2 linked regions of the Homo sapiens genome follow. The protein of the gene in region 1 binds, or shares a complex with, the protein of each later gene. Each region holds a gene or a part of one and is shown on either strand. Other genes may lie near its edges.

Region 1 (7,031 bases):
GTAACCTTTCAGTGGAGAAATCTGGAAGATCCTACCTTAATCAAGTGAACAAAGTTAAAATCATTAGTAATAAAATATATTGGCATCTGTAACCCCAATACGAATCAGTGAGAACAGCATAAAACATTGCTTCTGTGGTATTCTTGCCAAAAATGTATAACCCAATCAGACGTCATACAAACTCAAATTAAAGGAACTTCTACAAATACTGACTAGATTGTTCAAAAGTGTCAATGTCATGAAAGACCAAGAAAGATTGAGGAGACTAAGGATACAAGACAACTAAACATAACACGGAGCTCTGGATTGATTCCTACACCAGAAAAAGGACATTTGTGAGAAAACATCAAATAAGGTCTACAGATTAGTAGACAACATCGTATCTGTGCTAACTTCCTGGTTTTGATCATTGTGCTATGGTTATGTAAGATGTTAATATCAGTGAAGGCTTGGTGAAAAATATTGAAGAATTCTTTGTACTACTTTTGCAATTTTTCTTTTAAGCTTAACATTATTTCAAAATAAAAATTTAAATATTTAAAACCTAATAGTTTCAAAATTTTCCCAACCATAGCTCATTATAATTTGCCAGTTAAAAATTTAATTTGAGCACTTTATAGTTAATAAAAGACAATGATTTATTTTTTCATTTTTTATTTTTTTGAGTCAGAGTCTCACTCTGCTGTAAAAGATAGAGTGCAGTGGCACAATCTCAGCTCACTGAAATCTCCCCGTCCCAGATTCAAGCGATTCTCCTGCCTCAGCCTCCTGAGTATCTGGAATTACAGATGTGCACCACCACGCCTGGCTAATTTTGTATTTTTAGTAGAGACAGGGTTTCACCATGTTGGCCAGGCTGGTCTCGAACTCTTGACCCCAGGTGATTTGCCCACCTCGGCCTCCCAAAGTGCTTGGTATTACAGGCATAAGCCACCGAGCCTGGCCAAGACAATGATTTTAAAAGAGTTTTGATAGCAACTTCACTCACTTTAAAAAATGTTAGATGTAACCCACATAGCAAATTAAGAATGTTGGTTCCTTACTTTAAGTACCACATAGGGTCAGCGTCACTTGTAACCTTTTCATTGGCTTTCATTATCTTCTTTATCTGCAGTGGAAAATGCAACATTAGCAAAGACTCTGGCTTCCAATTAATCCTTAGTTTATGTCTATTTCTAACATCTGATGCTTACCTCTACATTAATGAAATAGTTAAATGAATCTATATGCTGTTTCACAAGGCCTTTCACCTAAACAGATAGAAAGAGAAAGTAAACAGGTTAGCAAAAGTGCAAAGAGTACTGATGATATGCTCAAATAATAGATCATATAATGGAATCTAATAATAGGTGAACATCAAATTTTTATCAAAATCAAAATGAGAAAAATAATCCATGAATTTTATTTAATAAATCTTTTCATTAATGCATTCTCATTCCATTTCTGCATCGTCTTACTAGCATATCCTCGAGAGTTTTCCTCCTTGAGAAGCAATCTGACTCTCGGAAATCAAAATATGAGTACATGAATATATGGTCATGTGCCACATAACAACATTTCATTCAACTACAGACCACATATCTGACAGCAGTCCCATAAGATTATAATGGAGCTGAAAAATTCCTATCGCCTAATGACTTACAACTTGATTTGATTTCATAGAGTGTATTTCTGAAAAGAATGACCCCTCCTCAAGAAGAGCCTCCGGCAGGTCCTTCAGCAAGTATTCTAGAAGAAGGTATTGTTATCATAGAAGATGACAGCTCCATGTGTGTTACTGTCCATGAAGACCCTCCAGTGGGACAAGGCATGGAGATGGAAGACAGTGATATTGATGATTCTGGCCCGGGCTAATGTGTGTATTTGTATCTTAGTTTTTAACAAAAAAAAAATTTTTTTTTTTTTTTGAGACAGAGTCTCGCTCTATTGCCCAGGCTGGAGTACAGTGGTGCGATCTCGGCTCACTGCAACGTCCGCCTCCCTGCATCAAGCAGTTCAGGTGCCTCAGCCTTCTGAGTAGCTGGGATTACAGGTGCCCGCCACCATGCCCAGCTAATTTTTGTATTTTTAGTAGAAACGGGGTTACACCATGTTGGCCAGGCTAGTCGGTCTCAAACTCCCAACCTCAAATGATCCGCCTGTCTTGGCCTCCCAAAGTGCTGGGATTACAAGCGTGAGCCACTGTGCCCAGCACCCAGCACCTTCTTCTCCATTTATGTGCAGCTCCTTTTAAAAAATAACAAAAAGGCCAGGCAAGGTGTCACATTCCTACAGTCACAGCTACTCGGGAGGCAGAGGCAGGAGAATCACTCAAACTCAGGAGTTCAAATCCAGCCTGGGCAATGTAGCAAGACCTGGTCTCTTAGGGGGAAAAAGAAACTTCTTGACCTTACGACCATTTTATTTGATTCTTGGTCACTCCCCAACTTAGAAACTCCTCAATAGCTTCCTACGGCTTTTAGAAGAAAAGCCAAATCCTTAACACGGCTTTCAAATCTGATCAGGAAACTGGCCCTGACAACTCCCAGCCTCGTTTCCCAGCACTCTCCCCTCTGCCCATAACACGCAACTGAACTCTAGAGTAGAGTCCAAAATGAGTAGAGACAAAACTCTACTCATTTTTCTTTTTTTGAGACGGAATCTCACACTGTCGACCAGGCTGCAGTGCAGTGGCGCGATCTCGGCTCACTGCAACCTCTGCCTCCCAGGTTCAAGCTATTCTCCTGCCTTATCCTCCCAAGTAGCTGGGATTACAGGGGCCCGCCACCACACCCAGCTAATTTTTTGTATCTTTAGTAGAGACGAGGTTTCACTATGTTGGCCAGGGTGGTCTCAAACTCCTGACCTCGTGATCCGCCCACCTCAGCCTCCCCAGGTGCTGGGATTACAGGCGTGAGCCACCGCGCCCGGCCTCATTTTTCAAGTCTCCATTCTTTCACTTAGCACAATGCTTTCAAGATTCGTCCATGTTGCAGCGGGTACCTGCTTTCTTTTTATTGCCAAATAATACTCTGTTGCACAGATACATCCCATTTTGTGTATCCATCCAGCAGCTGATGGCCATTTGGGTTGTTTCCACTCTTGGCTATTATGAATAATACTGCTATGAGCATTTGTGTACAGGTTTCTGCATGGACACATGTTTTCATGTCTCTTGGACAGATATCTAGGAGTGGAATTGCTGGAGGATGTGGTAACTTTTTGTTTAACCATTTGAGAAACTGACAGCCTGTTTTCCAAAGTGGCTATAACACTTTACGTTCCCACCAGTGGAGCATGATAGTTCCCATTCCTCCACACCCTTATTAACATTTGATTTTGATTATAGCTATCCTAGCGGGTGCCAAGTGGTCTCTCACTGTGGTACTCATTACTTCTTAGCATAAGCTCTTGGAAATTGAATTGAAGCCCGACACCACATCATATCATATTCAGCAGCTCCTCTTGACTGGTCGCTATTTCCTGCAGACTCTGTGGAGGCTCCTCTTGAACACCTTGATTGAGCCACGCTCTCTGCACCCAGCTTTCAGGCTTAAACCTTCTTCTCTTAAGATGTGGTTTATGTCTCACTTCATTTGGGTGGCCCTCTCTGACCATTGCTCTTTTGCTGATAGCACTTTGGTTTTTAATCATGTGCCATGCTACTGTGCATGTACTACTACTTCTCTCTAAAATTAGACTACCACTCTCCAAACCAGCACCTTTCAGGCAGGGATTTTACCTTATAATTCCTTGTATTTCCAAACACAGCTATACAAAATCAAAAAATGTTGATGACAAAAATTTAATCTTTAAAAAATGGCTTATTTCTTGACTTTTTCATCTGAAAAATAACCAATTATTATTAAATGTGAAACAATTACCTTTAAAAATGCTGGAAGCAGCCTCCATTTTTCCTGTGAGCCAAAACAAGAAGAATATCAGAACTCTGTACCAGCAACAGTACTTTCATAAGTTATTTTAATGTTCCAAAATAAGCAAAGGAAAGTAAATCAAAACAAAAAGAATAATTTTTAAACATTTTTATGGAAATCACATGTGTGCATATGCATATAAATATGTATACACATACATACATACACTACAGGTTTCCTAAACAGAATATAACTTAATCTCTTCCTGATGACTCAAGATTTTAAGCACTTTTCAATCCTTTATTTTATTCTCATGACACTTCCTAAGTGAAGTTTGCCAGTTTGAGAAAAGGAAAATAAGGCTCAGAGAGTCTGGTGGGAGAGCTGGGTCTCAAGACCCAAAGGGAGTTCTTTCTCCCTCCCATTCTCTCTCAACTACTGTCTGGTCAGAGCTCATCTCAGGGCTACAGAAGGATGACACATATGGTGATTGCTTCCTACATTGCCTGAGCAACTAGAGGGATAGAGTTAAAATTGATGGAGGCGAGGAACATTGTAGGAATAGCAGGTTTAGGTGTGGAGGGGCTACTAGAAATTTGGTTTGGGTGTGTTAAGCTTGAGATCTCCATTAGACATTCAGGTGGAAATGTCAAGGAGGCAACAAATGAGTCTTGAATTCGGGAATGGAGTGGCCTGGAGATATAAACTAGGAAGAGATTAACAAGTGGATGGCAATTAAAGGCACGTGATGGATGAGATCACCTATGGAATGTAGATGGAGAAGAGTTCCACAAAGTGAGACCAACCAAGAATAATCCAACAATCAGAGAGGAGGAGCAGGAGGCAGCTCCAGCAAAGGAGACCGAGGAGTGGCCAGGGAAGGTGGCAGACCCCTGGGTATAGTCAAAAACAAGAGAGGCAGGCAAAGCTAATCTATGATGACGGAAATCAAAAGGTGCTTGGGGGGATAGACTGAAAAGGGTCATAAGGGAACTTTCTGGGGTGATGCAATGTCCACATAGAGCACATAACTATAAAACCAATGTAACTGAATATCTAGTATCCATACATTTTATTATATAAATTACACCTAAATTTAAAAATAGAAGAATGACAATGATATAGGTTGAATTGTGTCCCTCTCAAAATTCATATGCTAAAGTCCTAATCCCCAGTATCTCAGAATGTGACTGTTTTTGAAGATGGGGTCTTGACAAAGGTGATTAAGTAAAATGAGTCATTAAGGTGAGCCCTAATCCAATACAACTGGTGTCCTTATAAAAAAGGAGAAATTGGACATAGAGATGCACACAGGGACAATGCCATGTGAAGATGAAGGTAGAGGTCTCAGTGAAGCTTCTGCAAGCCAAGGGATGCCAAAGATTGCCAGCAAACACCTGTAGTAGGGGACGGCCCAGAGCAGATCCTCTCTCATAGCCCTCAGAAGGAGCCAGCTCTGTTGTCACCCTGATCTCAGACTTCTAACTTCCAGAACTATGAGAAAACAAATTTCTGTTGTTTAAGCCACCTAGTTTGTGGTTACTTTGTTACGGCAGCCCTATGAGCTAATACTCCCACATCTTCAAATTCCTCTCTCTACACCCCTTCTTATACTCGTTTCCTCCCACTTCAAAGGAAGGACCATCCATTCCTTGGTCTAAGGCTAACCCTTCCGCCACAGACACAATCCTGCCAACCTTCTCCTGAAGACTGGAAACCTTGCCCCAGTTCAGTCCTTGATATTCAACCTGTTCTATTTAAAACGAGTATTCAAATCCTCCCATTAAAAAAAAAATTTAAAACTTTCTTGACTCAGCAGCTCCTCTGACTACTTTCTTCCCTGCCCTTCAGCTTACGATCTCTCCCAAATTACTCCATATTTAGCTTCTCTGTTCCTCACTTCCCACTCCTTCATTCCGTTATAGTCAGGACTCTGACCTACCTGCCAGTGAAAGAGCTCGACAGAGGTCACCAAGGCTGCTACTTCAAAAGACCTCCCTTGATGCCCCCTCACATTCCCTTTCCACAGTATTTGGCCATGCCGATCACTGTCTTATAACACTCTGTGGTATCATTCTCTTATGTCTTTCCTTCCTCCGGCCGGGCCTTGTCACACCTCTTTTTCTCTGCCACCCTGCAAATTTTGGTGTTCTTCAAAGTTCTATCCCTGGCGATGTCTTTTCTCAAGTAGGGCTGGGAATGGAGGATTTCAAACAACACTGTTTGAAAGTGTTGTTTAGCTTCCCCCATCTCATCCCACAGCCCCCCAGTTCCAAATGTGGGCTCTTTCAAGGGCAGTGACCCTGTCTATCCTGTTACCACAGTGCCTGGCACATAAAAGACTCCAATAAATACTGAATAAATAAATGAGTGAGTGAATATCACTGTTGCAGTAAGCTACTGGGTATGGGCCTGTCCCCTCCAACTATTGACTGGGCAGTGATACCTTACAGCCTCAGAGGCTACTTAAGATCAGTATGTCCAAAATTAAATCTTCCCCCAGCTCCATTCTCAATCTCAATGAATATCACCATTTATCCCAGTCAATCCCAAATTAGATACCCGGGAGTCCTAACTTTCTGACTCTTCTTAATCAACAGGAAAACAAAAATTCTACTGAGTCGACCTCCTTTTAACCTTCCTCGCATTTATCCTCTGCTCCTGTGCCAGTTGAGGCCCTCATAATCTTTCAGCTGGTCTGCGGCAATACTTCCTTACTACTCTTCCTGCTCGTCCCTTTCAATGCTCAGCACTAAAGCCAGTGTACATGTCCTCATGTGCACAGCTGAGCACCTCATTCTCTACAACTCTTCAGTGCCTCCCCACCCTCTTCACCATGTCTTAACTCCACAGCGAGGCATACATCATATGCTGTGCTTGCAGCTGTACTTGTGCCTACGCCTCCTCCTTCTATCTGGAATGCTTCCGCACCACCACACTTCATCCACATCTGGCAAACTCAGTTCAGGCATCACATCCTAGCTACCATTTGTAATACCAAAATACCCCTCGCCTACTTGTATCACAGTACCTATTGCATGTTATTCCACTTGCTTACACGTCTCTCTCTATAAGCCTATAACACACTGGGAGGCAGAAAACACATTTTTTGAACTTGTATAAACCCTGTGAATAATACACCACCAGGTAAGTACTCAGTAACACTGACAAATATTT
Region 2 (4,690 bases), on another chromosome or scaffold:
CTCTCTGACACTGTGCCTTCTCAGTCAAAATTTGTTGAATGACATTAACTTTTCATGTCCCAGAGATAAAAGATTGAATGTCTTGTACCTCCTTGGCTTCCTGTCCATTCTACTACATTTCTTTTTCTCTTTGTTTTTGTCTTTATTAGGTTTATTCACTGGATCTCTGAATACCCAGGCCCCCTCCACCATGGCCAGCCGGGGTGGGGGCCGGGGTCGTGGCCGGGGCCAGTTGACCTTCAACGTGGAGGCCGTGGGCATTGGGAAAGGGGATGCTTTGCCCCCACCCACCCTGCAGCCTTCTCCACTCTTCCCTGTGAGTCTCTCCACTCCCTTCCCAGACTCTCATGTGCCCCTGGCTGACTGTACATGATTCTGAATTCCTCCTGGACCATCATAAAACCATCCTCGCTTTGGCCCTCTCTCTATACTCCCAATGCACAGGGATGTTTTGCAGGCAAAGAAGTGTCCACCTTTACTTCTCCCCAGCTTTCAAAATAATATGTTACTCCCTCGATTGTCATTTGGCCCTCTGCTCAGTGGGAGTGTTAGACTAAATTGGGAGGAGGGGTCTTCCTAAATTTGTACTAGCATTTTCTCCCTGAACTGACCACTGCCCCTGCCTCTTTAGCCCTTGGAGTTCCGCCCAGTACCTTTGCCCTCAGGCGAGGAAGGGGAATATGTCCTGGCACTGAAGCAAGAGCTACGAGGAGCCATGAGGCAGCTCCCCTACTTCATCCGGCCAGCTGTCCCCAAGAGAGGTCAGTTGGAATGCTAGCATCATATTCTGAGTGCCTTCCATGGGGAGTGCCCTGTGCTCAGCACCACTGGGGGCCAGAGGGGCACAGGAAGCATACTATCTAACTGGGGAGATCATAATAGTTACCCCTGTATCTGAAATGCATTATAGTATTCATGGTTTGTTTTGAGTCTCATGATAGTCTTGGGACAGCAGGAGGTTAAATATTAAAATCCCATTTCACGTGTATAAGTAGGGGGATGTATTTTCTAAAAAATTATATATTTTTTATTTTTTTGTAAAATAGAGATAGGGTGTCCTTATGTTGTCCAGGCTGGTCTTGAACTTCTGGGCTCAAGAGATTCTCCTGCCTTGGCCTCCCAAAGTGCTGGGATTACAGGCATGAGCCACTGCGCCCAGCAAAATTTTTAACAATCTGGATATTATAAGCACCAACCAACAAGAGAATACTGAAATCCTGGTTTCTTATTCCCTAGCATACTTTCCACTGCACCACGCTATTTCTTAATACAGCCATGCCTTTGAACTAAGGGACAGAAAAAAAAAAAATCATCATGGCCGGGTGCGGTGGCTTACGCCTGTAATGGCCAGCACTTTGGGAGGCTGACATGGGTGGATCACTTGAGGCCAGGAGTTTGAGGCCAGCCTAGCCAATACGGTGAAACCCTGTCTCTACTAAAAATATAAAAATTAGCCAGGCACAGTGGTGTGTGCCTGTGGTCTCAGCTACTCGGGAGGCTGAGGCTGAGGCTGAGGCATGAGAATCGCTTGAACCTGGGAGGTGGAGGTTGCAGTGAGCTGAGATCTTGCCACTGCACTCTAGCCTGGGTGACACAGCAAACCTCTGTCTCAAAAAAAAAAGGCCAGGTGTGGTGGCTCACACCTAGAATCCCAGCACTTTGGGAGGCTGAGGTGGGCAGATCACGAGGTCAGGAGTTCAAGACCAGCTTGGCCAACATAGTGAAACCCCGTCTCTACAAAAAATACAAAAAAATTAGCCAGGCCTGGTGGCAGATGCCTCTAATCCCAGCTGCTTGGGAGGCTGAGGCAAGAATTGCTTGAACTTGGGAGGCGGAGGTTGCAGTGGGCTGAGATCACGCCACTGCACTCCAGCCCAGGCGACAGTGCGAGATTCTGTCTGAAAAAAAAAAATCGTAATTTTGGGTGGAAAAGGAACAGGTTAGAAGAGTGATAAGGGGCCGGGCGCAGTAATTCACGCCTGTAATCCCAGCACTTTGGGAGGCCGAGGTAGGTGGATCACGAGGTCAGGAGATTGAGACCATCCTGGCCAACATGGTGAAACCCCGTCTCTACTAAAAATACAAAAATTAGCTAGGCGTGGTGGTGTGTGCCTGTAGTCCCAGCTACTCAGGAGACTGAGGCAGGAGAATCGCTTGAACCTGGGAGGTGGAGGTTGCAGTAAGCTGAGATTGTACCACTGCACTCCAGCCTGAGGGACAGAGCGAGACTCTGTCTCAAAAAAAAAAAAAAAAAAAGTAGATAAGGTCCTCACTGAAGCTGACCCCCTGGGCTCTGGGTTTGGGGTAAGGAAACAGATAATTCCTCAGTATTGAGAGGGCTGGACTCTCAGGAACAGTCCTGTTCTGGGTCTCTGAAGGGATAAAACTTTGACCCTTCCACCCCTCAGATGTGGAGCGTTATTCAGACAAATATCAGATGTCAGGTCCGATTGACAATGCCATCGATTGGAACCCTGGTAGGTGATGGGCCCTTTCATTGACTGCCCTTCTTTCAAATGCATGGGATGCTTCAAGCTATTCCCACCACGCCCATGACCCCACCCCATTCCCCGATCCAGCATCTGCAAGCTAGAGCCTTAGTTATGGTCCAACACATTCTCAGATTCTACCTGAAAAAGCTATTAAATAGTTCCCACTACTCAGGAGATATCCAAGCCACTGAACAACTTTGGCCCAGCCCCTTCCTTCCTCTCCTTTAAAACCCTCACCCCCCTTTAAAACCAGTCAGTATTCACTGGAGACCCCAGGCAGGGTCCTATTGACATTTACGTTCCCACTATTCCCAGATTGGCGGCGTCTACCCCGGGAGCTAAAGATCCGAGTGCGGAAGCTACAGAAGGAACGTGAGTGTATCTGGAAAAAAGGAGGGAGAAGAGAGGTTTCCTTCATCAGCCTGAGGGCCGAGGCTGCTGCTGGTCTCACCTTCCATCCCAGTTCCTATACCCAATCTACCAAGTGTTGTTGCTAGATGTCATAGTGGCCACATGAGGGCAGCAGAGTGACATGTTCTTTGCATGAGGATGGGCTATAAAGCTGGCAAAATTTGCTCTCTGAAGGTTTACCTTTTGATCCCTCCACCAGGGATTACAATTCTGCTCCCCAAGAGGCCCCCTAAGACCACAGAAGATAAGGAGGAAACAATACAGAAACTAGAGGTGAGGAGGAAGTGTGCATAGAGACCTCCTGAGCCCTGGATCCATTCCCTCTCTCTTGGCCCATGTGTGCCTCAATTTTTCCCTTCTGTGAACTGAACCTGAGTTTCTATTCCTATTCATCCCCACATGAGACCCTGGAGAAGAAGGAAGAAGAAGTAACTTCAGAGGAGGATGAGGAGAAAGAAGAAGAAGAAGAGAAGGAAGAGGAGGAAGAAGAAGAGTATGATGAAGAAGAACATGAAGAGGTGAAGGGGACTCCTTCCACCTTAGTCCCCCTCCCTTTACCCTCTTTATACTAGGGTTGCTCTCCTCAGAGGGTTGGCATGCCAACAGAGATAGTGCCCCCCAGGGTAGGGGCTTCTCTCTACTTCATCTGCCCCCCTTCTACAAACTACAGCTGGAAGAGATGTCTCAGGCCTGGAATGGTGTGACTGAGAGGAAAGGGGTCTGGTACACAGGAAGGAAGGTGAATGCCAAATTGACTTTTACTTTTTTTTTTTCCATTTCAGGAAACTGATTACATCATGTCATATTTTGACAATGGAGAGGACTTTGGTGGTGACAGTGATGACAATATGGACGAGGCTATATACTGAAGAAGGACTCTGGACCCTCGTGTCTTTCTTTAGGATACAGAGAGTAACTGTACCTATTATTTGTTTCTTCAGACAAGCAAATCATTTGGTCAGAGTTCATATAATCTGTCTGTTCCCTGGAGATGGGAATAGAGGATGATGACAGTTTATTTTCTACACTTCCCCTCCTTCCACATTTGTATCACCTTTGCTATCTTGGGGAAAGTGCAAAGGACAAACATCTCAATTGTATGAAGGGAGAAAGGAGAATTGAAAGAAGAACTGGGGTTGTTAGAGCTGAGATGACTGTACACATACCCCTGCCCAATTTATATAGCTCTTTGTGGAGATAATTAGGGGTGGGAGCAGTTTGAAGGAGTAAGCCTGGTTTTATACTTTTAAATAAAGTGTTTTTATCTGTCTCTCTGTTGTGGGTGAGGCCTGGTGACAGAGGGCTGGAGGAATGAAGGAAATGCTTAACTAAGCCGGGTCTGGTGTGACACACTGGAGGGTTACAGCCCTACAGCCCGCTTGTCCTTTGTCCCTTCCCTTCTACCCCCATGGTGGGACACATATTCACAATCGAGCCCAGCCAAGGAATATTCAAGGCCTCATCTGTAGGGCAATGCAAAGTAAATTGTAGAGAACAGCCTACGCCCCCTGCAGTACAGCTGACTTCTGAGCCTCTGGTCCTCAGGCCACAAGGACATGATTGTGTCTGTTCACACATGTTCACAAGGACATAGGTCCTGTCTTTCCCACACTTGACCTTGATCTTGTCCTTATTTACAAAAAATGATTACAGCTATTTTTGTGGGGAAAGGCAAGAAAACCAGGTATGAGGAGGGAGGAGGAGCTGACTTATTCACCATACTCCCTCCTCTTCCAGACTCTGGAGATGCCACTTTGAAAGGTATGTCTGTGCAGAGCAAGTCCCCC

Evidence for each region. Proteins that work in one complex are often made in the same cells at the same time.
Region 2: POLR3B (region 1) and POLR3GL share a complex: the UniProt entries of both Homo sapiens proteins name them as parts of the RNA polymerase III (Pol III) complex.

Annotation. Positions count from the first base shown.
Region 1 is NC_000012.12:106,360,735-106,367,765, reverse strand, and holds part of POLR3B (DNA-directed RNA polymerase III subunit RPC2), read right to left. Parts: intron 3,897-7,031; coding exon 3,864-3,896; intron 1,251-3,863; coding exon 1,194-1,250; intron 1,109-1,193; coding exon 1,044-1,108; intron 1-1,043. UniProt on the Homo sapiens protein: Catalytic core component of RNA polymerase III (Pol III), a DNA-dependent RNA polymerase which synthesizes small non-coding RNAs using the four ribonucleoside triphosphates as substrates.
Region 2 is NC_000001.11:145,974,676-145,979,365, forward strand, and holds the end of POLR3GL (DNA-directed RNA polymerase III subunit RPC7-like), read left to right. Parts: intron 1-149; 5' UTR 150-190; coding exon 191-316; intron 317-631; coding exon 632-761; intron 762-2,408; coding exon 2,409-2,477; intron 2,478-2,807; coding exon 2,808-2,864; intron 2,865-3,102; coding exon 3,103-3,176; intron 3,177-3,307; coding exon 3,308-3,421; intron 3,422-3,685; coding exon 3,686-3,772; 3' UTR 3,773-4,173; downstream 4,174-4,690. UniProt on the Homo sapiens protein: DNA-dependent RNA polymerase catalyzes the transcription of DNA into RNA using the four ribonucleoside triphosphates as substrates. Specific peripheric component of RNA polymerase III which synthesizes small RNAs, such as 5S rRNA and tRNAs.